Homo sapiens: one gene and its partners. The protein of the gene in region 1 interacts with the protein of each later gene in a pairwise test. Each region holds a gene or a part of one and is shown on either strand. Other genes may lie near its edges.

Evidence for each region.
Region 2: the proteins of DMRT3 (region 1) and ZNF438 interact in binary tests that used the Homo sapiens proteins (3 or more experiments, as listed by UniProt).
Region 3: the proteins of DMRT3 (region 1) and ZMYND12 interact in binary tests that used the Homo sapiens proteins (3 or more experiments, as listed by UniProt).

The regions. Positions count from the first base shown.
Region 1 is NC_000009.12:972,069-979,656, forward strand, and holds the start of DMRT3 (doublesex- and mab-3-related transcription factor 3), read left to right. Parts: upstream 1-4,586; 5' UTR 4,587-4,933; coding exon 4,934-5,387; intron 5,388-7,588. UniProt on the Homo sapiens protein: Probable transcription factor that plays a role in configuring the spinal circuits controlling stride in vertebrates.
Region 2 is NC_000010.11:31,028,866-31,036,196, reverse strand, and holds the start of ZNF438 (zinc finger protein 438), read left to right. Parts: upstream 1-4,331; 5' UTR 4,332-4,364; intron 4,365-7,331. UniProt on the Homo sapiens protein: Isoform 1 acts as a transcriptional repressor.
Region 3 is NC_000001.11:42,453,023-42,460,766, reverse strand, and holds the start of ZMYND12 (zinc finger MYND domain-containing protein 12), read left to right. Parts: upstream 1-4,744; 5' UTR 4,745-4,769; coding exon 4,770-4,879; intron 4,880-7,744. Other genes in the region: PPCS (phosphopantothenate--cysteine ligase), read right to left, coding at 841-1,164, 3,417-3,520, 3,694-4,201. UniProt on the Homo sapiens protein: Required for sperm flagellum function and male fertility.

The DNA.
Region 1 (7,588 bases):
GAAGTTGCCCCGCCCAGGAGGCTCCTGGGAAAGTGAGGAGAGGGCCCGGGCCTACTTTCGTCCTGGTGTGGCGCCCCTCAGCCTCCCCTCCTCCCAGTTCCCGCGCCTCCGCAGGGCGCCTCGGCCTGGCCTCCAGGCAAAGTTCGCGCCCCCTGTTCCTGGGGTGTCGGCCGCGCGGGCCGTTTCCCTTCATTACTCCCGGGCCCCTGAATCCGAACGCTTTCCCAGAAGCGCGCAAATCCGCTTGCTTTCCCCGCGGCTGGGCTTTGTTCAGGGACAGCAAAGGAGGAGGCGGGAGGCTGGTGAGGTTTTCTGGAAAAGGGGCTTGTCCCGAGGAGGAAGTGCCCCAGATCCCTGAGAGCCAACGCTCTGGGGAGAAGAAACTTTCCTTCTCCCTTGAATGTTGCTCAGATTACCTAAAATTATTTTTTCAGCCCTTGTGTTCTAAAGTCGCAGGGTAAAGGTTATCTTAAGACTTAACATCAGCGCTGCTCATTTGTACGTTGGTGGAGACGTGCCTTTTTTCCTTTGCACTTAAGGTGGACAGGGTCTGCGACGCTCCCTTCCAGGACGGTGTGGGGAAGCGGCCGACGTCCCCAGCCGGACTCACGCCCTCCTACTACTGGGCGTCGGCTCCGCCGCGGGCGCTCCCGACAGGGAGCTGGAGTCGGACGAGCGGCTGCCCCCAGGGCCTCCAGGAACCGCGGCCCAGCGGGGAGCGCCCCAGGCTAGCGCTTTTCCAGTTCCCTTCGAAAGCGCGGGGCTGAGGTCGCGGCGCTGGGCCCTCGGATGAAGCCGTGCTGTAGCTACACCTGAACCCCGCGAAAGGCTGGCGCGGTCGTGTATCCAGGCTGGGTCTGAGGAATCCGCAAGCGGGAGAGCGCTAACTCCTAGGCGTGAGCCGCTGCTGGCTTCGAGAGTTCGAGAACATGAAGGACCTGGCTTCTCCCGCCCGGTCGGCTTAGGGCCAGCGAGGTCACAGGCCGTTCTGCTCTCCCTGTTTGTCCCCAAAGGCCTCGGCACGTGGGGATCTGGAGCAGGCCTCAGGCTGCGACCCGTCTCTTCCCCTACCAAAATTATGTGGGAACAGCGGTCCAGGACCTTCCCCTGTTCAGCGGTATCCCCGGGCCGGTGACCCCGGGGTTCAGTCGTCTCCCCGACCCCAAGCGGCCTCTGCTTTCCACCCCTCGCCCCGGAGGGCGGCTTCGGGGATCTCATGGGGGGTTTGCATGAGTCTGTCCCCAGCCAACTGAGGGAGAACCAAGACATTATTGCCATCTAAAGAAATTGATTGCTGGATGCCCCACTGCCTGGCTGGACATTCCCCCAACTCCTTTCAATTTGAAGCGGGCCGAAGAGCGAGGTCGAGAAGCTGACCAGGTGAGAGCTGAGTAGTTCACGCACAGGAAGAGGGGACAAGTTTTTCTGTTTTCACAGGGGTTCCTCACGCTCAGGCTTCCAGCGTCTGCCTGCACTGACATCATCGTGGTCGCGATGAAAACAGTGAAATAGGAACCCTGACCTCCCCTTCCATGAGAATCCAGCAGAGAATTTGCTGATGTGTTATACATCCGGGACAATCGGAAACTGCCGTTTTGATTGAGTATTAGTTGGGATGAGGAGCACATACCAGGACTCCCAGATCTGGAGTCCTCACTTTCTCAGCAAGGGCACCTGCATCCTGAGCTTTTACATGTACACACACCCAGCGATTGTGTGTGCCGAGAAAGACCCACATACGCACATTGTTTTTTCCTCTTCCACGATTATCTGCCAGAATTCTACTCAGTTAATTGCGGTTTGAGAACACACCATCCACAGGAGAGCACCAATGGATCTAGTCTAGTGAGGTTACATTTACTTGTAATCCTCCCCCTTCCCTTTCCCATTTCTTTGATGATTTTTCCCATAAGTGTGTAAGCTACTGGGACTTAGTAGAAGCAGGCCGCTCCTCCTAAATGTGATTTGGACCATATGCTTTCTACATTCATTCCCGCTTCGGCTTTTCTTCTCTGCACTAACTGCTAACACGTTATAGTCACCTTGAAATTTCCTCTGCTATTTTCCAATTAAAAGCTTAATAGCCCTGGAAACGGAGTTCATGTGGTGAAGTTTACCACAGCCCCTTGTTCTGAAAGGCTTTCTGCTGGGATCCCATTATGTGCTTGAATAAACCCTTTCTGCAAACAGAAATGGGACTCGGGGTTGTCAGGTGTTGGGTTACAATAGACTTTGAGGCAGGGGACATTTTACCAACATAAATACAAACCTGTCCCTATAGGGAGATGTTGTCAAATACTGGGATATGGAAAACATTCCCATCAAATATGAGAAAAGGATTACTGCACTATATCAAATGAGTATTTAGATCTCAGCCCCCGATGTGCACCGGAGTGAAACGGGCCCCCGGGACCAAATGCCAGACTGTTTGAGTGGCAACGAGATAGGGTGGCTAGGTGACCGACGGGGGAAAAGGGGTCGCCTTGGTAGTGAAAGTGCCCCCACAAACCTGGTGCAGAGCTCTTCTGCTTTCCTTTTAAAAATTTATTCATACTCAAGTTCTTTATACTTCCTCGTTTCACTGTTTGAAGAAAATCGGAAGAAATTTGGTTTTGAAAAAAGTCGTTGGTCCCCACGTTTCCAAGAGATCCGGAGGTTTCAGCGCAATAGTTTTCAGTTAAGGTGTCATTTGAGGCCCTCTATATCGCAGCACGTTAAATGACTCGCGTCCAGCTCCCCATTTCCTAGCCTCGGGCCTACAGGGCTGGGGGCGACCTCTGCCTCCCGTCCCCAGAGCTTACAAAATTCCTTCCAGTTGTATTTTAGGGCTTGTTTTCCTAGAGAAGGTTGAGACTAGAGGAAGGATTAAAGTGGTGGGGGAAGGGGCAAGACCGAGGGGTCCCTACCCCACGCGGCTTTGGAGGATGGCCTCCCAGGGTTAGCACTCGAATGCTAGAGCTTCTTGTCCACACTCTACCAGGTCAGTGTCCCGCGATCCCCACCTCCCGGACGCGTATGAAACGGGAACAGCTAAGGGCTTCAAGGGAAACACACAACTGGGGTTCGGTTTTCAACCCTCCTCTCCGCAAATCAGCCTTCTGGGCAGAGGGTTGGCTGCTAGAACGCCTGGAGGTGCTTCCCTTGAATTCATGGCAAACACCAGAGGAAAGTTTTCAGGTTGCTTGCTTACTTCCAGGGCAGTACAGAGAAAAGCGGCCTCCCCGAGGGGACAAGGGCCTCTGTGCCCATGAGGGGTCGGACATTGCAGCGGACTTGCCTACGCTCTCATCTAGCATTTGATTCCCCACCAGGAGATGGGCTTGGTGCACGCTCTCAGAAGCGCATCCACCGAAGGCTCTGGAACTGCCCCGCTTCGCATAGAGCTATTGTGCTGCCCTGCAGTGTATCCACTTGTTTTGTTTGTTTGTTTGTTTTTTGGTTTTTGCTTGTTTGCTGATGGGCAGTGGGGAGGTGCGAGGGTGGAGGGCCTTCTTTGTGCATATATAGCGATAGTCTGCACTAGGCCAAGCCCGCTACTCCTGGGAGAATGGGAACACGCAAATAATCTAAACAAAGTTTTCTGCTGTCATCTTGTGAAGGACCCTCTCCCCCAAGACATCTATGACTGGGGTCTATGGGTTAAGGAGGTGAAAAAGTGGCCCCATCCCATATCCATAACTGAATCACAGAATCCGTGGGGATTTGAACTGAGTGGCTGGCGCAAGACCTCCGTTTGCTTCCAGTAGCTGCTGGGAGCGAGGGAAGAGGATATCGGTAACTTTGGGGGCGCCAATGTGGCTTCTGTGTCTGCCCCTTGAAAGTTTATACCCGGCGCTTAACAAATCCTTTACAGGAGCACGTACGTCCCTGACCTTTCAGGATACTGTTTTATATTAAAACATGGACAGGAGGGTAGAAAAGTAAAATTCGCCTGCAAAATGGCTTGTCATCCTTGGGCCGGCAGATCTCCAAAACCATTTTCTTCTAAAGCAACAAAAGAGAAAAAAATACGTTCTAAAAGGAAATTACGAAAAGAGCCTAACTTTCCTAAACCAACATCACTTCACTCCCCTATCCTAAACTCCACCCAGGTCCGGGGTGCAACCGCAACACTCCCGTAGGTTCGAGTTCTCCCGGAGCTGAGCTTCTGCGGCCAAATGTCGGGATAAAAGCGGCCTTGGGCTCGGAAAAACGCGGCCAGATCTGGACTGGAGGGAGGAGAAGAGAGAGAAGCGGAGCGGCCACCTCACTCGCTTACAGGCACCCCCACCCTCACTCCCGCTGGTCCTCCCCTTCTCCGCCCCGCGAGCACCGCCGCGTTCTGGAGCGCCGCAGTCTCCAGCCGCGGGCTGGGGTAGCGGAGAGGGCTTGGAGGAGGGGGCCGCGAGCGCCCCCGCGAGAGTGGCCTGGCTGCAGGTGGCAAGGAAGGTGAAGTGCAGGCACCCGAGGGGCGCAAAGGAGGAGGAAGGCGTGGGGCGGGGAGTGCAAGGAGACAGGGACCCCAGGGGCGGGGGTGGCGGTGGGAAGGAGGAGGGGTTGGGGGAGGGCGGCGGAGGTGTTGGGTCCGGCCGGCTCACGAGGGAGCTGCAGAAGAGCTGGCTCAGACCTTAATCAGAGCTGTCGCCGGCTCCTTGCAGCCGCCGCAGCGCCTCCGCGAAGGAGGACGTGCCGACCCGGCTGCGCGCCCAAGGCAGAGGCCCGCGTCGGCGTTGGCTGGGCGTGAGCTGGGAGGCCGAGCTGTGAGCGCGAAGGGAGCTGGAGAGACGACTGCGGCACCTCCGGCCGCCCCGGAGCACACACGACCACCGGGGCTGCGGGACCAAGGGCCGCGTCGCCCGGAGGCCGCCCCTGAGCGGGCCTCGCAGCCCCGCCGTCCAGCGCTCCCTGGCCCTCTCCCGCAGCCAGGCTGCCAACTCATTCGGGAGCCCGGGGCATGAACGGCTACGGCTCCCCCTACCTGTACATGGGCGGCCCGGTGTCGCAGCCGCCACGGGCGCCCCTGCAGCGCACGCCCAAGTGCGCGCGCTGCCGCAACCATGGCGTCCTGTCCTGGCTCAAGGGCCACAAGCGTTACTGCCGCTTCAAGGACTGCACCTGCGAGAAGTGCATCCTCATCATCGAGCGGCAGCGGGTCATGGCTGCGCAGGTGGCGCTGCGCCGGCAGCAGGCCAACGAGAGCTTGGAGAGCCTCATCCCCGACTCGCTGCGCGCTCTGCCAGGGCCCCCGCCGCCGGGGGACGCCGTCGCCGCCCCGCAGCCGCCGCCAGCCTCTCAGCCGTCGCAGCCGCAGCCGCCGCGCCCTGCTGCCGAGTTGGCCGCGGCCGCCGCGCTGCGTTGGACTGCCGAGCCGCAGCCCGGGGCTCTGCAGGCGCAGCTCGCCAAGCCAGGTAAGAGCGTCTGAGGTGCGGGAGTTTGGCCGGGCGCGGGGGCAACTTCGGAGTGCCAGCTGCAGCTCCACTTGGGAGGACTGGAGGCAAAGTTTTGGGACGTGGGCCTGTCGGGGCTTTCCTTCCTACTCTCCGCCAGGCCGGGGCTTCCTCTCCCGGGAGAAGCCGGCTGAGTCTGGACCCAGCGCGAGTGGCACTCGCGCCCGCAGGGAAGGCGCCTCCGGGCAGCCAAACGACGGGACTGTGCGTCAGTATCGCCAGGTGCCTTCCCAGGTTGAAGGGTTCGGAACGTGTCAGATTGAGCAGGGAGACAACGGAGTTGAGACAGGACAAAATTAAAACCCACGTGCGCACACTCACTACGGTGGGGTCGGATTTTCCTGGCTGCAGGCTTTAGAGGTCCTTGCCATTTGGGGGTTGGAATGGGTAGGTAGGTGTAGGGAAGGAGCCAAGGCCAACACTCGGCTGAGTCGAGCTGGCTGTGCTTCTCGGCCGGCCCGGCCCTGCCCAGGGCCCAGGAAAATTTGAGTGAGGACAAGTATCCAACTCTCAGAACCCTGGCCTTTCTAGCTTTGCTCCGTGGCCTCCAGACTCTTGTAACTGGTGAAATAAGTTCCATTTAGCAATGATAGTAAAAGGGTCCGGAAAGGCTTGTGAGCTGATAGCGGGAAAAGAATCTGATGCGCCCAGAATTCACTCCTTTGCAGAACCTCCTAGATCCTTTAACACTGTTCCCCAGGCTGCCCTCAGCTGTCTTCGTGGTTTAAAGGAATACAAAAAATCTGATCCCCCACCACCCATCCGTTTCCATCCAGGCCTCCTGAGCTTGGCAGGCCTGAGTTGAGTCTCTTAGTCTCTCTCTTCCTGGGGAATTTCTAGCTTGCGGTTCTGCCCAGCTCAAGAGCTCTTTTGATGGCTCTTGGAATTCAGTGGATATGTGTTTGGTGTTTCTCCTTAACTGGGGCAAATGTGCAAAGGAACACAGCCCACCTTCTCCCGGAAGGGGGCATGCTGGAATTAGGAGTGGGAAGGTCCAGAGCCCTCCTGTAAGTAGAACTGTGGCAAAACTGGTACCTACACTGACCTGCCAACTCCCTAAAGACGGTACCCCTAGCTTCGGAGAAAGGCTTTCAGGAGCCCAGGACTGCTTTGTCTGGATCCTGTGGAGCTGAGGAAGTGAGGCGGACTCACCTGTTTCATGGTGAGTCAACGGGTGACTGGCAGGTGGAGTTCTGCTGCCCTGTCTTTCCGCCATGCTTTCCAGGCCTGAAGCTCTGAGAACAGCCTGTGTGACAGTAGAGCTGGGAATTTTAAAGCCTGAAGAGAGTTTGCCGAACTTGGATTTTGTGGATATTTAATCCAAGTTAGCATATAAACGTTTCTCAGAAATGATCGCCAGTTGTCTCTCTTTTGTCTGTCTCATCTTTTTATATTTATGGATTTGTCACAGACGAAGAGGAGGGAGGAGAAAAAGGTTTTATTATTTTTCTCCCATAGGTTTGAACAAATAACAAGGAAGAGTTTGGTCTCAGCTCTAGAATTGGATTTGTACCAATATATTTTCTTAATTTTTTTCCATTTCCAGCTTCTCTGGTTCCGTTTCCCCCAGGACTAGGGCAGAGGCCTGAGTTAACATCAGAGGTTAACTCAGCAGCACTCCTGTGATCGGGCATTGGGTTCTGTGGTTTTTATCCAAGGAGATGCCTTTCACATCCTGTGTTCTTCAGAGTATTCTTTGGGATAGCTAAAGTTCATGATTTCTAAAGAGTCACAAAACTAAAAACACAACCCCAGGAGGAGGAGGAGTGAGGGCAGGCAGGAAGGCAGAGTAGGCAGCGGCAGCAGGATACGTGCTTTGGGAGAATAGAAAAAGGAAACGGATCTCAACTGGACAAAGCAGAGCTGTGCTGTTTTACTCCTACTTAGCACTCAGGGATAGCCTGAGCCTTCCGAATTGAAAACAAGTAATTGCAAAGGAGAATAGGATTTATCACAAGGCGAGGTCCAAGTGAGGACTTTGGGGGACCGAGGCATCAGGGACCAAGGGCTCAGTTTCCAGCTGGTCACCCCCACCCCCCCATACCTTGTACATTGATGTACACAACTTTTGTTTTCTTCTTTCACTTGCTGTGACCCCATAATTCCCATTTTTTTAAAAAAAAGCAAATCACCACTCTGATGGGGAGTGGGGAGAAAGGTAG
Region 2 (7,331 bases), on another chromosome or scaffold:
GGAGGTTGAGGTGGGAGAATCCCTTGAGCCTAGGAGTTCAAGGTTATAGTGAGCTATGGTCTTTCCATTGTACTCCAGCCTGGGCAAGAGCCTGTCTCAAAAATAAATAAGTAATATTTAGTAAGTCTAACCCCATTTGAGGCTTGCAGAAGTTACTGGACTTGCCATAAAGTACCCAGTTAATAACAGAGCTGGCCCTGTTCAGTGCTTTACTATGTTATGCTGCATTGCCATTCAAAATGACTTGTCTCCTAAAGGAATTTTCTCATCAGAATTATTTCTATTGACAGTATCCCCTTTTTAGAAAATAACTAGCATCTTGAGTAAGAAAGCTACCCAGTCTTTGAATTCGAGTTCATCCATCCATTCACCACGCATTCCTCTACACATATTAACTGATAATCTATTTGGGATACTACATGTAGAGGATTCGAGGTTAAGACTCACATTTCCCCTATTCTCACAGAGCTTACAGTCTAGGAGAAGAAGCAATTAAAATAATTTGCAATGCAGAGAGCCAAAGCTGCTTAGGGAAGGCTTCTCAGAGTCAGTTCCTGCAAAGTAGAGACCTAAAGGATTGGGGAGAATTAGCTAAGTAAAATGATGAGGGAAGGGAGGTGATAAAATGAGATGAAATACTGTGCAAACTGTGTAACTGCAGACTTGTAAGACTGTTATTAAACAGACATCCCTCCAGAGCTCTCCAATCTCTGTCCCAGGTCTTCTTCCAGCAAAGTCTCTATCTCTGCTCCTTTGGCAGAATAAGCCCCCTTTTAACCTGTGTAACTCTTGTTTTATAGATGGTTATTTTGTTGTTATTAGTATATTCTTGGGTTTGAGTTGGAGACAAGGGCCTATCTCTAATCAGGAGTGACCTGATTTTTATGTCAATTACCTGGGAAGAGATCATCAAACCAGATCCTGGGACTTAAGAGAGGAATGTAAGGGGATTGCAGAATGGGATTTTGTTTCCCTTGGTCTTGATCCTGAAGGATAAATGATGCATGTTAGTTAGGCAAGGCGTGGTTATAATAGTGTTTTTCAAATTTTTTTTGATTGAAATCCATAGTATGAAATACATTTAACGTTGCAACCCAGAATACACACATGTGGCTGAAAGTTTCCCCTAATTTGTGTTGGGAAAAAAATACCCTTATTACATGTGATACAATCTGATATTTTGTATTTTGGATTCTGATTAGTGTTTTTCTGAGTAGCTACCCTTTAACCGATCACAAAATCAACTTACTGGGTCATGATGACCACCTTAAAAAATCAAATAAAAGCAGTCATGCAAAGATGGGATGGAAAACAGTGAAGAAGATACCCATACACTGTGGTCAGTATTTTAGAGCTAAGTCCATATTTTGGACTTCCTAAGTCCCTCTGTTTCTTGCATAATTTGTGCCTGGTTGTATGAAACTTGAGACAGATTAGTGGTTATGGCTGTGGGTTCTGAAGTATGAAGTCTGGAATCTTGACTGTGTTACTCAGCAGCTGTGTGACATGGGCACTTAACCTACTTACCTTGTGTTTAAAATGGGGATAGTAACAGTTCTTATCTAGTTGCAAGAATTCAAGGAAATAATGCAATGCTTGGCACAGAATCAATACTCAGGAAATATTAGGAATTATATTTCTTTCACTTTTATTTTCCCCATACATTAAGTACTCTGTTTTGTCTTAATTCAGCTTTTCTTAGCTTGCTAAGCAGGACCAAGGGAAGAGATGTGTGTATTGACATAGAGGGCTCTGGAAGCCAGATTGCTATGGGCAGCAGATATCAAAGAGAAAGAATCACAAGGGGGAACTGAAAGCCCAAGGGCCATAGTGGAGGGCCTCAGTGCTTCCAGTGCTAAACCTCCAAGGTCCAGGGTTTTATTTTCTTTAAAAAAGCAGATCCTCTCTTTAATAACAACACTTTTGGCCCTAGCTTCTCACTTCCTGTCTAGGTCAAATTCCAGTTTGTTACAGAAAGTTGACTGAACGTGAGTGGTATTTTCCCACAAATTTCTACTTGACATTCCTTGAGACTGTGATCCTTGCTTGGGTACCTTTACTGTTGGCCATCTTTTGTTCACTGCGTTTACTTTTTTCCTGCATCTAGCAAAACAACGACTTTTTTTTTTGAATACCTGAGATTTCAAGAGAAAGTATACTGAACAATACGATGAGAAGACTATATTCTACAATGCCATCTTTCAGAGGCAAAAGTATCTATAGTAAAAACATTTGATACATTTGGTGTATGCTTCTTACCCATTTCCACTCCAAAAAATAACAGATGACATGTACCTGTGAAACACTCCCATAAGGTATACCTAGAAACTCACTTAAAAAAATTACGATTTTTAGAAATGATATATATAAAACATTTTATAAGCATGTAAACTATTAACAATTTAAAGGTTTCTTAAAATTGTTTTGCAAGGAAAAACATAAATATCACTGTTTTAAAAATATGCAGGACTTTAAAAAATGTTAATTTTTCTATACCTCTGCTCTACAGAAAAACCTTATTGTTACAATTATGGTACAGCCTTTACAAATTTCTTTTACATCATTTGATAATAACTAATATTCAGATAAAATATACAAATATTTTTTCAAATCAGAACATTTAAAAACACTGACGTAGATTTTTCTGGAATAATAAACGTTTTTATTTTTAACCAGCTCAGATCTCGAATTAAAGCCTAATATTCCCATCATCACTCTTTCCTGTAAAAATAAGACAGCACTTTCAATGAGAGTGGAAATAAACCATTGTTTCAGGTTTTACTTACAACTGGAGCTGCCTTGCAAAATCCCTGCCCTGGCCATCTGCCGTGGTTCCAAATAAGTTTGTAAAAGTGAATCTTGCCATTTTCAATACTTCCTCCTTTGGGTCTATTTATTCCGAAGTCTGTTTTTCTCATTCTTTTAATTTTTTTCCCCCCAAGACGGATTTGTCTGAGACACTTTTTTGCCATAACATTTGTTTTTTCTGCTTACGAGAGTGTAAGAATTCCACAAGCCAAATGTTAATATTTTGTTGTCAGTTCTTTAAGCCTTCATTTTTTCCGTCTATCGAGCCCTTTTTTTTAACCAGAACTCATTGCTTCTGAGAGTATAAAAGAGCAAAGAGGCCGGGCGCGGCGGCTCACACCTGTAATCCCAGCACCTTGAGAGGCCGAGGCGGGCGGATCACGAGGTCAAGAGATGGAGACCATCCTGGCCAACATGGTGAAACCCTGTCTCTACTAAAACATAAAAATTAGCCGGCTGTGGTGGCGCGCGCCTGTAATCCCAGCTACTCAGGAGGCTGAGGCAAGAAAATCGTTTGAACCCGGGAGGCAGGGGGTACTGTGAGTTGAGATCGCGCCACTGCACTCCAGCCTGGGAGACAGAGAAACACTCTGTCTCAAAAAAAAAAAAAAAAAAAAGTGGGGAGCAGAGAGCCGGACTTGGACACGGGAAGGTATCGTGACATGAGTGGGTCGGGGGCTGGAAAGTTTGCCCAGGCGAAGAAGTGAACATGTTTATCCGGATCACCGTTTGTTAAATGAACAGCAACCCATAGGTAGCTTCACCGAGCCGAAACGGGAAAGGCGGCAGGCAAGGGAGAAGCTAAAATCTGCAAGAAACGGGCTGGGCTGGAGGCGGCGCCAGGGCAAGAAGGGCAGGTGGGGGCCCGCGGGAGCCGGGAGCCAGGGGCGGGAGCCGGAAGGGCGGGACCCAGGGGCAAGGCCTAAGTGGGCGTGGGAGGGGCATAGTCAAGAGATGGGCGGGGACTGCTCGGGGTCTGGGCGGAGTCTAGCGGGAGCCGCGTCGAGCCGGGGAGGAGCGAGGGACCCTGGGAGAGCTGTCTTTTCAGGGCTGAGGACCCGCCAGCACCTGATGGAGAGCAAATGGCTGTTTCCACACGTGGAGAACTTTTAACGAACACGTGAGGAAGGCGGGCAATGTCTGTGGAAAAACTACCTCACAACCCAGGCGTCTTACTCCAGCCCCCAGGGCGACAGCTTGTTTACAGTATTTCTGAAGGTCTCCGTCCCCTTTTGTCGGCCCCTCCTCCTCCTCTAACCCCGACTTCAGGCTTTGAGTGAGGCTTTGGTAGAGCAGTCGCCGCCGCAGGCGCCCCGGTCGGCGAAGCCCACAGGCATGCGGGCGCAGAGGCCGTCTGCGCCTGCGCGGGGTGTCTGCTACGGGGAGGTGCGTGGAGCTCGAGGGCGTGGAGCTCGGGGGCGTGTCTCCCGCCGCGGCGCCGGGGCGGGGCGAGGGCGGAGCCTGGGGGCCCAGCGGCCCGCGCCCCGTGGCTTGACCTCCCCGACTGCTGGGCCCGTGACGTCACCCCGCTGTGACGCGCACGCTGTAGGAAAACTGTAAGTTTACGAGGATTCCTGCAGCTCCTAGGGCTTGCGGGGCCCGCTGGCAGCTGGCAGTCCCGGCGGTGGTGGTGGCTCTGGGGGCGTCAGTTCCTTGGGGAGTCGCCGATTGTGGCGAAGGGACAGGTGTCTGCTCAGAGTGGCAGCGCGCCCTGCTGGGCGGTAGGGACCTGGGGTGCGGGAGGCGAGGCCGCGCCCCGTGGGGCCGGGCCAGCACCTTTTCCCCTGGGGCGGGGCGCGTCTCCGAGCCTGGGAGCGAGGCCTTAGAAGGGGCGGAAAGTCCAAATGGAGAGTCCCTTTTTTTCTTCCGTGATAAAGGGACTTAGATTCCTTTTCTTCCCCCTCTCAGCCTTGGAGTTTGACATGTTAAGTAGGGGATGGAAGCTTCCTCTCAGAGAATAGGAATCCTATGTCCTGGCCGTTGGGATCCCACAAGTGACCAAGTCATCGTGGACACATTTATAAGATAACCAGTTGCTGCCTCAGTTTTCTTTTTTGTGTAAAAGGGAGGTACAGCAGCCTCTGGCCTCCCTAATGGTTGTTCCCACAGCACTAGGAACACGTGAGATAACACAAGTGTGTAAATTTGCTAGGAGAAAGCTTATACACAGACACTTGGTTATTCTGAGGAATGTGGTAGCCACTGGCTATTTGACCAGGAATCTTGTAGAAGGGGAACTTTTTCACTGTTTTGCCTCCCCCCGACAACCTTCCCTCCATCTGATTCTATACCACACTGGAGCCTGTTGGGTGATCGAACTGTTGTCACTAAACTTGATAGAATGGGGATCCCAAGAAATAACAGGTATCGTTAGCACGGTACTCTTGGCAATTACAATGCCCCCGTTGTCTGGGTTTTGCAGAGGAAGCTTTCAGTGTGCTGGAACTAGCACATTATAGACAACACAGACTCACTGAGTTTTAAGGATTGCTGTATCGATTTGGAATATCCAATCATCGTATCTGACTGCTTGAATATTTTGGTCAAGGGGTACTACATTATCGATTAGTTATTACTAGACTATAATGCCTCTCAAACTCCGGGACTAGTAGTCTTCAGGAACTTTGAAGGGAAGAATACTGTGCACACTTCAGGGTGTATTTATACAGGAGCTCGAGAGTTCACATTTCTGTAAATTCATTTCAGGAGTGTGATATCTTTTCATCCAGGTAGGAAGAGCCTTTGAATCAGAAAGCAGGGCTTCTAATTTTTGTTCTATTCGTTAACTAGCTTCGTGTCCAAGGACAAGTCACGCAAACTTGGAACTTTGTTTTTCTTATCTAAAATGAGAGCCGATGGTTTATCTGTTTGTTGGTTTTTCCAGGATCAAATGAGATCACGAGAGTGCAAATGAAAGGCTAAGTGTGCTATTGTTATTAGGAGATTCGCATTGGTCCCCTAGCCTGGATGAGATGTGAGTCAGAAATCTCTGGAAATAGAGCAGCAAAGAAGACAGCCTCCAACCTAGCAGGGCTCATATTGCAGTGGGAAATAGACAACGAACAATACGTGCATAATGTAATTTCAGGTAGTCATAAGTGCAGTGAAGGGAAGGAAGAAAGGAGGACAGTGGGGGAACAGGGAAGGTTGTTTTTGGTGGGATCTGTCAGGAAAAGCCATTCAAAGGCAGGGACACTTGAAGTGTGAGGGAAAGAGCCTGAGGTAAGAACATTTCAGAGAGGAATAATTAATAGCAATGAACACTTAAAAAAAGTAGAGCTTACCATATGTAAGGCACTATTCTGAACACTAAATTAAATTTTTACAAGTCTTTTGATGTAACCTAGTATCTCCCTTTCATAGATGAGGCAACTGACACACAGAAAGGTTAAGAATTTGCCAAAGTTGCACAGCTAAAACGTGGTAGAGACTATTTGAACGTGGGCAGTCTGACTTCAGAGTCCAGGCTCCAGGTGACTGTATTTTCGGCCTCACAGCAGGAACAGCACAGGACAATGCTCTGAGGTGGTCCAGACACAGTGAGAGTGTTTAGAGCACAGCCGGGAACGGGGAAAGTAGTGGCCAATGATGGTCAAGGGCCAGGCAGGCCGTGGGGTCCCTTGTAGGCTGTGGTGAAGTAAAGATGTTGTTCTAACTGTGATGGAAAACCATTGGAAGGTTTGCATCAAGGGACTGGTGTCTGATTTAAGTTTTATTGTATGGAGAATTAACTGTAGATTAGAGTGGGTCGGATGGAGTGAAAATCGGGAGAAAGCTGCTGTGCCCTGCAGGTGAAATGATGGTGGTTTGGGCTGGGGGAGGTTAGTTGTGGAGATGATGGTAGGCGGTAGAATTGGTGATACGTTTTGAAGGTAGAGCTGACGGGAAACGAGCTGATGTGGAATTTGAAGAAAAGGGAGAAGTGATGATTTTTTAGGTTTAGGCTGGAACAACTAGAAGTATAGTGGTGCTGTTTACTGAGGAAAATTACAAATTTAGTTTTGCACAAGTTCTAAATGCCTGTTAGACATAGTCATAACAACAGTGCTAGTAAAAATAGTATTATGTAAGCGTAAACTGAGTCCCAGGCAGGGTTTTAAGTACTTTAACCTATATTAATTCATTTAATCATCATAAGAATTATATGTGCAAGGAACCATTATTGTCCCCATTTTACAGCACGAGAAAATAGAGGCAAAAAGAGGTTATAAGTGACTTGTCTGAAGTCACCCAGCTGGTGAGTGATGTAGCTAGGATTCAAACCTAAGCATTGTGGCTTTGGAGTCCATGCATTGAATCCCTGTAACCACCTCCGAGTGAACATGTTGAGTATGCATGCCTGTGAATATGGAACTCAGGGGAGTGGTCAGGGTTGGAGATACCCATTTATTTTTCTGAAGAGAAAGCATGCTTTTGTTTTTCATCTAAGCTTTGGTTGTCTGTGGGAGAAAGATTATAGGCAGTGGGACTGTGCTAACTGGTCTTTGATTACGACCTGACTGGGTTCATGCAGCCAGTATCTG
Region 3 (7,744 bases), on another chromosome or scaffold:
ATGCATGTGGACACTGAGATTAAGTCAAATGCCTAAGTTTATAAAGCTAATAGGTGGCACAGCTGGCTAAGTTGACTTCTAGCCCATACTCTACCACACTGTAATGCATCCCTCAGGACAGAGATCACCAAGTGGCCCCTGCCTGGTCCCAGGTGGAAGGACATATTAAGTTAAACTGAAAAGCAGTCCTAAAATACTTGAAATGTAAACTATTACCCAAACATGAGGTGAATCTACAATAAGAAGCAAAAAGTAAATGCAGTGAAAAGCTCACCATTCTACAATCTATCTTCAGGGAGGTATCCTTCTTTCCTACTACTATATTTGATAAATTTCAAACAAAACAAAACATCCTTTCCATTGTGTCAGCTTTTGGACACACACTTTATTGCACTTGATTTTTTTATACATCCATTTCCTAAACAAGATATGTTTATTCATCTTTTTAATCCTCATGGCTCAGCACAGGGCCTGACATACATAGGCATTCAACCAATATTTGATCTCCAAAGCATGACCATTCATGCATCCATAATCCTTTTTCTATAGTATAAAGATGGCTGACATTCAGGCCCCCATGTATATTTTAAGGAATATATAATTCCCAATAAGCTCTTCTTTTTAAAGGTGATTAACAGTTCTAGTGTTCAATTTCAAAATCAAAATGACATCATATCAGGTGTCATTAAAAGACAAATGCCAAACCATATTTGCCTACACACCACTGCCTTTTCCCTTTCTTTCATTTTATCTGTCCATATGAAAGCCATGGTTTTTTTTGTAGTTTTCACCATCTCTAAGAGCCCTGAACAATTTTTGATCCTATAAGGGCTTTTTACTTCAGTTTCTGTCACCTATAAAAGCTGTGTGTCGAGACTGAAGATTATCCACTATCTTCTCTTCTATCTCTACGCCTTTTTCTATTTCTTCCTCTGATAGCAATAACTTGGTTTCCGAGTCTTTGGTTACAATAAACACAAAGGACTGTCGTGACTCAAGGATATTAGCCACCACCACTTGATGCTGATAAATTTCCAAAGCCTTCCGAGCTCGATTAATTACAATGGCGGGGTCAGTCTCCAACTTAAAGGAAATTATAAATGCTTTGGGAGCCCAATCTTTAACCAAAGGAGAAAGCAGTTTTGGCACCATCTTCATTGTTATCTGTATTGGAAAAAGAAAAGCTTAATAAGCAAACAATGGTCATTACCTACCAGGTCAATCTCATGGGAAACTAAGGAATTAAATTTAAGTGGGATTTCTCAACCATCAAACTTTTCAGTTAAATGTTTAGTTTAAAAAGTCTTAGGGGAACACAGTGGCTTGGCCTGTAATCCCAGCACTTTGGAAGGCCAGGATGGGTGGATCGCTTGAGCCCAGTTCAAGACCAGCCTGGGCAACATGGCAAAACCATGTCTCTACAAAAAAATACAAAAATTAGCCAAGCATGGTGGCACCCACCTGTAGTCCCAGCTACTCAGGAGGCTGAGATGGGAAGATCACTTGAGCCTGGAAGGTTGAGGCTGCAGTGAGCTGTGTTCATGCCACTGCACTTCAGCCTGGGCAACAGAGCGACACCTTGTCTCACAAAAAAAAAAAAAAAAAAAAAAAGCCTTGGCTCTGTAGAGTTCACAGCGATGCCTAAATTCAAGGCTCCATACATATTCTGGGGCAAACCATGCCTTCTGAATAAGCCCTGCCATGCTCTGCCAACCTTACCACCATTAATATTTTCTCAAGCATGTCCCTTTATTTTTGAACCAAACCCTCAAATAAACAGATACAAATAATCTGTTCATACAAATATTTGGCAGAAGCCTAAATAAAGTTGGGTTTTTAAACCTCTCAGCCTAAAATATTTCTTGCATTGGTAGAATGGCTATTAGATTCCATTTTTAAATTGTCACATGTAACACAACTTAGCAGTGAGGAAACTGATTTTATTTTCACTTGACCAAAACTCCTAGTACCTCATCCCCAATCCCTTCTCAGGGTAATGTTCAGTTGCTTTGTTACTTTCAAGATAGAACTAAAAACTGTGGGATAAACTAAAGATCCCAGAGATTAAAAAGCGTGAAATCACTAAGCTAATCATCAGACTTTGCCCTAAAAAAAAGCTGTTAGTGTGATAGGGATCATATACCAGTTTATTTATACTTTATTTTTCTCCTTAGCATTTATCACTACTAAACGAGTTATGTATTTGACTTATTTATTGTCTCCTCTGCAGAGGAAGCAACACAAAGGCAGGGTATGTTTCTTTTCACTGCTTTCATCTCTAAGTCCTACAGCAGTGTAGGACCTCAATAAACTATTCTACAAAGTCGGCAAATGCCCCACAGATAAGAGTTTCTCCTAATAAAATCCTACCTGTATCACCCAATAAATGACTAAGAACTCCTGAAGGTTCCAAAAATCTAAAATCACAACCACACCTACCTTATCCATATTTCTTCCTTAACCTACAATAGCCCCCAACTAATCTACCCACTCCACTTTCTCCTTCTCTACTTCGTCTTTCATACTGATGCCAGAATGTTGTTCTCAAACAAAAACTTTATCTCATTCTCCTACTTATGTGTCCCTTAGCTCCACAAGAAAAAGTCCAAGCTCCTTAAAAAAGGAAAATAAAGTCTTCTACAAAGCAAGCCATCTCTTCAGTCAGCTCTCCAGCCTTACCAAAGCACTTCGGTTCACAGCCCACTGCCCACTTTCAAATTCCTACTGCCATACTCCACCTGGAATGACCTTTCCCACTTCGTACACCCTCTGCTCATTTTGTTTTGATTTTTGGTGTTTTTTTTTTTTTTTGCGACGGAGTATCGCTCTCGTCGCCCGGGCTGGAGTGCAATGGCGAGATCTCAGCTCACTGCAACCTCCGCCTCCTGGTTTCAAGCGATTCTTCTGCCTCAGCCTCCCGAGTAGCTGGGATTACAGGCGCCTGCCACCACGCCCGGCTAATTTTTGTATTTTTTTAGTAGAGACGGGGTTTCACCATGTTGGCCAGGCTGGTCTCGAACTCCTGACCTCAGGCGATCTGCCCTCCTTGGCCTCCCAAAGTGCTGGGATTACAGGCGTGAGCCACCGCGCTCGGTTCTGCTCATCTTTTAAAACCCAGTTCAATTCATCTCCTCCAAGAAGCTTCATCGACTCCCCCAGGATTCACTCGCCCCATGATCTGACTGCACTTTGTACATACCTCCACTAGAGCATTTATCACTCTGTATTGTAATTATGTCTGTGTCCAGCTCCCTCACTAGATTGTGAGGTCCATGAGGGAGGGCGGTGTCTTATTCATCTCTGTATCCCCTGTGCCTAGCGAATACAGATGCAGAAAGGCCATCTCCAGATCAAGAGGAAATTAACCCAAGATTGGTTATATGGGATTAGATCTCTGGAAGAGAAGCGCCCATCACCTGCAGTGGGCCCCCAGATGACTGGATCTTGTGTTCAGGCATTTCAGAGACAGGAACATAGAAATCTGACACAGCCGCAGCCAGGTAAAACATCGCAGAAGGGCCTGCAAAGAGAAACACAAGGTGTTAACAAATCGGCGAGGTACGATATAGGATCAGCTCCTTCTCAACTCGGGTTCCCCAGCTGAGATCCGTGGGTAAGCAGGAGGTAAGGGGATAAGTGGCTGGAAAGAAAGGCTGTGCTTCCAGGCAAAAGGGGTACTCCTAGGGCACGCACCTAGCGGATTGAGTGCCTGGGCCGCAGCCTGCAACAGATGCAAATAGTCCGCCAAAGTGGTGAACTCTACTGCCAGGAAGGTGCCTGCAGCCGCAGCCTCCTGGTAGCTCCTCAGAGCCTCAGCAAAACCCGGAAGTGCATTCTCCTCGGCCTCCAGGCTCAGCAAGCCCGAAAGGGCTGGGCCCGAAGGCCGCAGAGCGGACAGCCAAGTCTGGGGTGGGAAGCGGTGGGCATAGGGGAAGGCAGAGCGAGCGCGATACAAGAACAGGACCCCGTAGCCGGCGGCTAGGAAGGCCTCGGCCGAGGTTGCACCGCGCCGCCCGCTGCTGAAGTTGTCCAGGAAGCGCACCGGCCGCGCTTCCAGTGGGACCTTGGTGCCGCCTGACGTAACCAACACCACCCGCCGGCCCTGCGCGCCCAGCCTGGCCGCGAAGCGAGCCATAACCTCAGCCCAGCGCGCAGCACCGGGAGGCTGGGGGAACTCGGCTACCGGATCCATTTCCGCCATCTGCAGCGCAGCGGCCGGCGCCTGCGCACGTTTCGCGGCCGCCGCGCCACGCCCCTTCTCGCCTACCTGGTGTACGCGCCGCGCCGTACTGAGTGGGCGGTTCACTACCCTTCTTTTGACACTAGGTCCCGATCTCGCCAAGTCTGGAAATGCGTAGTTGTTCTGCCCCAGAGCCCAGCGAAAGTGACACTGCAACGAGGGGGATCCCCGGCTGGGTGGGCATCTGGTAGGGTCACGTTCCCTCACGTTCGTTTCCTAGCCTGGGTGAAGAACTGGCCATGTTTGACCCTTACCGGCCACTGTACGGGCCTTTCTGGACTTGGACTCCTTGGGAGTCGTTTCTCGGCCATTTGACCCGTGGGACTTGTGGGTTTTGTGCTGCTTTTTCTTTCTTTCTTCCCCTTTTCCAACTTCAGCAATACACCCAGATGTTAGTCGAGTCACGTCCCGCCGCCCTCTGCCCTTGAAATGCTGGCAAGTACGCAGCCCCGCGATCGTCACGTGACGCCGGGGTTCAGCGTATCCTTGCTGGGCAACCGTCTTAGAGACCAGCACTGCTGGCTGCACCATGAATGTGATCTACCCACTGGCAGTCCCCAAGGGGCGCAGACTCTGCTGTGAGGTGTGCGAAGCCCCAGCCGAGCGGGTGTGCGCGGCCTGCACAGTCACTTATTACTGGTAGGCCCTGAAACGTGGCACCTGGGCGCTATAACTCCCTCCCTCTCTCCCTTTCCCGGGTCTGGCTTGGGTACCTTGCGTTAGCCGTTGCCCCTGACTCTGCAAGGGACACCTCAAAACGGCTTTAAGACAGGCCCCTAAGACTCCCGTGGCCTCGTCTGTCTCATCTCCCACTTATTCGTCACTCATGTTTTCTGAAGGCGTACTCTGTGTTATGCACTATTTTAGGTGCTAAAGTTACTGGGGCAGCTCGGTAGATCAGTTCCTTCAAAGATCTAACATTCCAATGTGGGAGACAAATCAGTAAAGAAACAGGCCGGGCGCGGTGGCTCACGCCTGTAATCCCAGCACTTCGGGAGGCCGAGGCGGGCGGATCGCCTGAGGTCAGGAGTTCGAGACCAGCCTGGCCAACATGGTGAAACCCTGTCTCTACTAAAAAATACAAAAATTAGGCGGGAGTGGTGCTGGGCGCCTGTAATCCCAGCTACTCGGGAGGCTGAAGCAGAAGAATCGCTTGAACCCGGGAGGCGGAGCTCGCAGTGAGCGGAGATCGCGCCACTGCACTCCAGCTTGGGCAACGAGAGTGAGACGATAGTGAATGGGGCAGTATGTGGAAAGCTTTCCCTGTGGAAGAAACATTTGAGCTGCATTTTGAGAGGGCAGTCAGAACCTGCTGTGTACAGGAGTAGTGAAGAAGGGTAGGGCATTCCCGGCATCCGGGACTGCTAGGGCAAATGGCAAAAGAACAGAGTTTGCTAAGGGCCGAGTGGAGAACGTAGTAGTGGAGGGAGCAGTCAGTGATTTTCAAACTGCAGGCCAGGGCCCTTTAGCAGTTTATGAATAAGTCACAATCACCATTTAGAGAAAACAACAACAACAAAAAAGAGCACAGAATGAGTAGAAAGTATCAGGTTAATCCTACCTGAATTGTTTCTTAAAACTTTTGTCTTAGTGTTTTATGTGGACATGTGTGTGTGTACAGGAAAAATGTATTTCTTACTATAGGTTGAGTCAAAATTAGCCGGATGTGGTGGCGTGCACCTGTAATCCTAGCTACTCGGGAGGCTGAAGCAGGAGAATCGTTTGAACCCGGGAGGCGGAGGTTGCAGTGAGCCGAGATCGCTCCATTGCACTCCAGCTTGGGCAACAAGAGTGAAACTGTGTCTCAAAAAAAAAAAAAAAAGTTGGAACATCATTGTGATAGGTAGTAGAAGTTTAAACCAAGAAGATAAAGGTTAGGGCTAGACAGTGACATGAGATCAAGGGTTTGGAATTTATCTCCTGGGAAACCATGAATGGTTTTGAGCTGACATGCTCTCATTTGTGTTAAGGAAAGAGGATGGGCTGCAGTGTGGCAGATACAGAGGAAGGTAGACACTGACGGCTGCATAACAGATCAAGAAGCTGTTGCAGTACCTTCTCATACTGGCCTAGGTGTCCTTCCTCAGTGCTCTCAAAGCACTGAGTATGTCCCCTATCCTAACACTTAGGACATGGACTGAAATCATTTATTTATTTCTTTCATTAGGCTGTATGCCCCACAAGGGCAGGGATGGTATCTGTGTTTTCATTGCTATCTCCTCTTTGGTGGCTTCCTTGCCTTTAGAATATAATTAAGAATTTGTAACAGAAAATACAAGGCCCTGGTTATTTCTCTACCTTCACTTCCCACCACACTCACCCCATTTTTTCTTTGCTGTAGTTATAGAGAACTGAAGTTCTAATTTGCTAAGCCCTTTCTTCCCTCAGTTTCTTTTCCCAGTCTGTTCTCTCTGCTAGGAACCTCCCCTTCAACTACAAGCCTTCCTGGCTCCCTTTCATCCTTCAGTTCTCAGTTTAAATGTCATTTCTTCAAAGAGGTCTAAACCCAGTCTCAACTCCCCGTCATACTTTTCTCTCTCACAGTACCATTTTTCTTTGCTTTTTCTGTACTTTTATATTATTGTGTTTGCTTGTCTGATGTCTATGTCTTTTACTAGACCCAGTGGCCACACATACCAGACACTCAATGAACATCTGTTGAATAAAACTAAATGGATAATAAACCCATTAACTTGGGCAAGGAACACGGGGAAAAGATGACGGGCATCAGATTTGGTTGTAGGCATAGAGTTTAAGAGGCCTTTGGGTCACCCCCAGAGAGATGGCCAGTAAACCGCCGTGGGTAAAACCTGCCACTCAGGCTTGGGAAAGATTCAATCCTTTTGCTTGGTGTGAGCACTGACTTTTTCCTTAAAACACCCCTGTCCTCTGTATCCCTCCAGCCGGAAGTAATTCCTTCTTCCTCTGAACTAACTTTACAGTACTCTGTATCTCTCAGATGACTCATATTTCTCTTCATTTTAATTGTTGGTGAGTGTGTTATTTCAATTCTGTTATGCTCCATTAATGCTAGATACTATGTCAAATGTGTACAGAGGGACTGTCAAGTATGCTAACTTTTGATCTATGTCCGACCTGTCATTGTATGCCCCATAGTCTCTAGCAAAGTGTCTTGAAATAGTTGGCACTTGTGCTTTTATCCCTTGGGCCAAAAAATAAAAATGTGAAAAAAAAGACATAGTTGGCACTAATATCTGATAAATGCATGTATAAATTATCATCTTCTATGCCCTTATCTTCGATTTTTTTTCTTTTACTTGCTTTTAATTCTCTTTAAGACCTTCTCCTTTTGTTTTTTTGCTTCCTTTTCTCCAGATTTCTATGTCTTTGGGTCTTGCAGATTTCAAGATTTTTTGATAAAACAAAACTGAGGTTGTTGTTCTATAGGTTTTGATGGTCGAATGTAAAGCATCTAGTACCCTTCCTGGAACCATGTTGGCACACAGTAAATGTTCCTTTTCATCATCCCAAGTTTAAGGAACA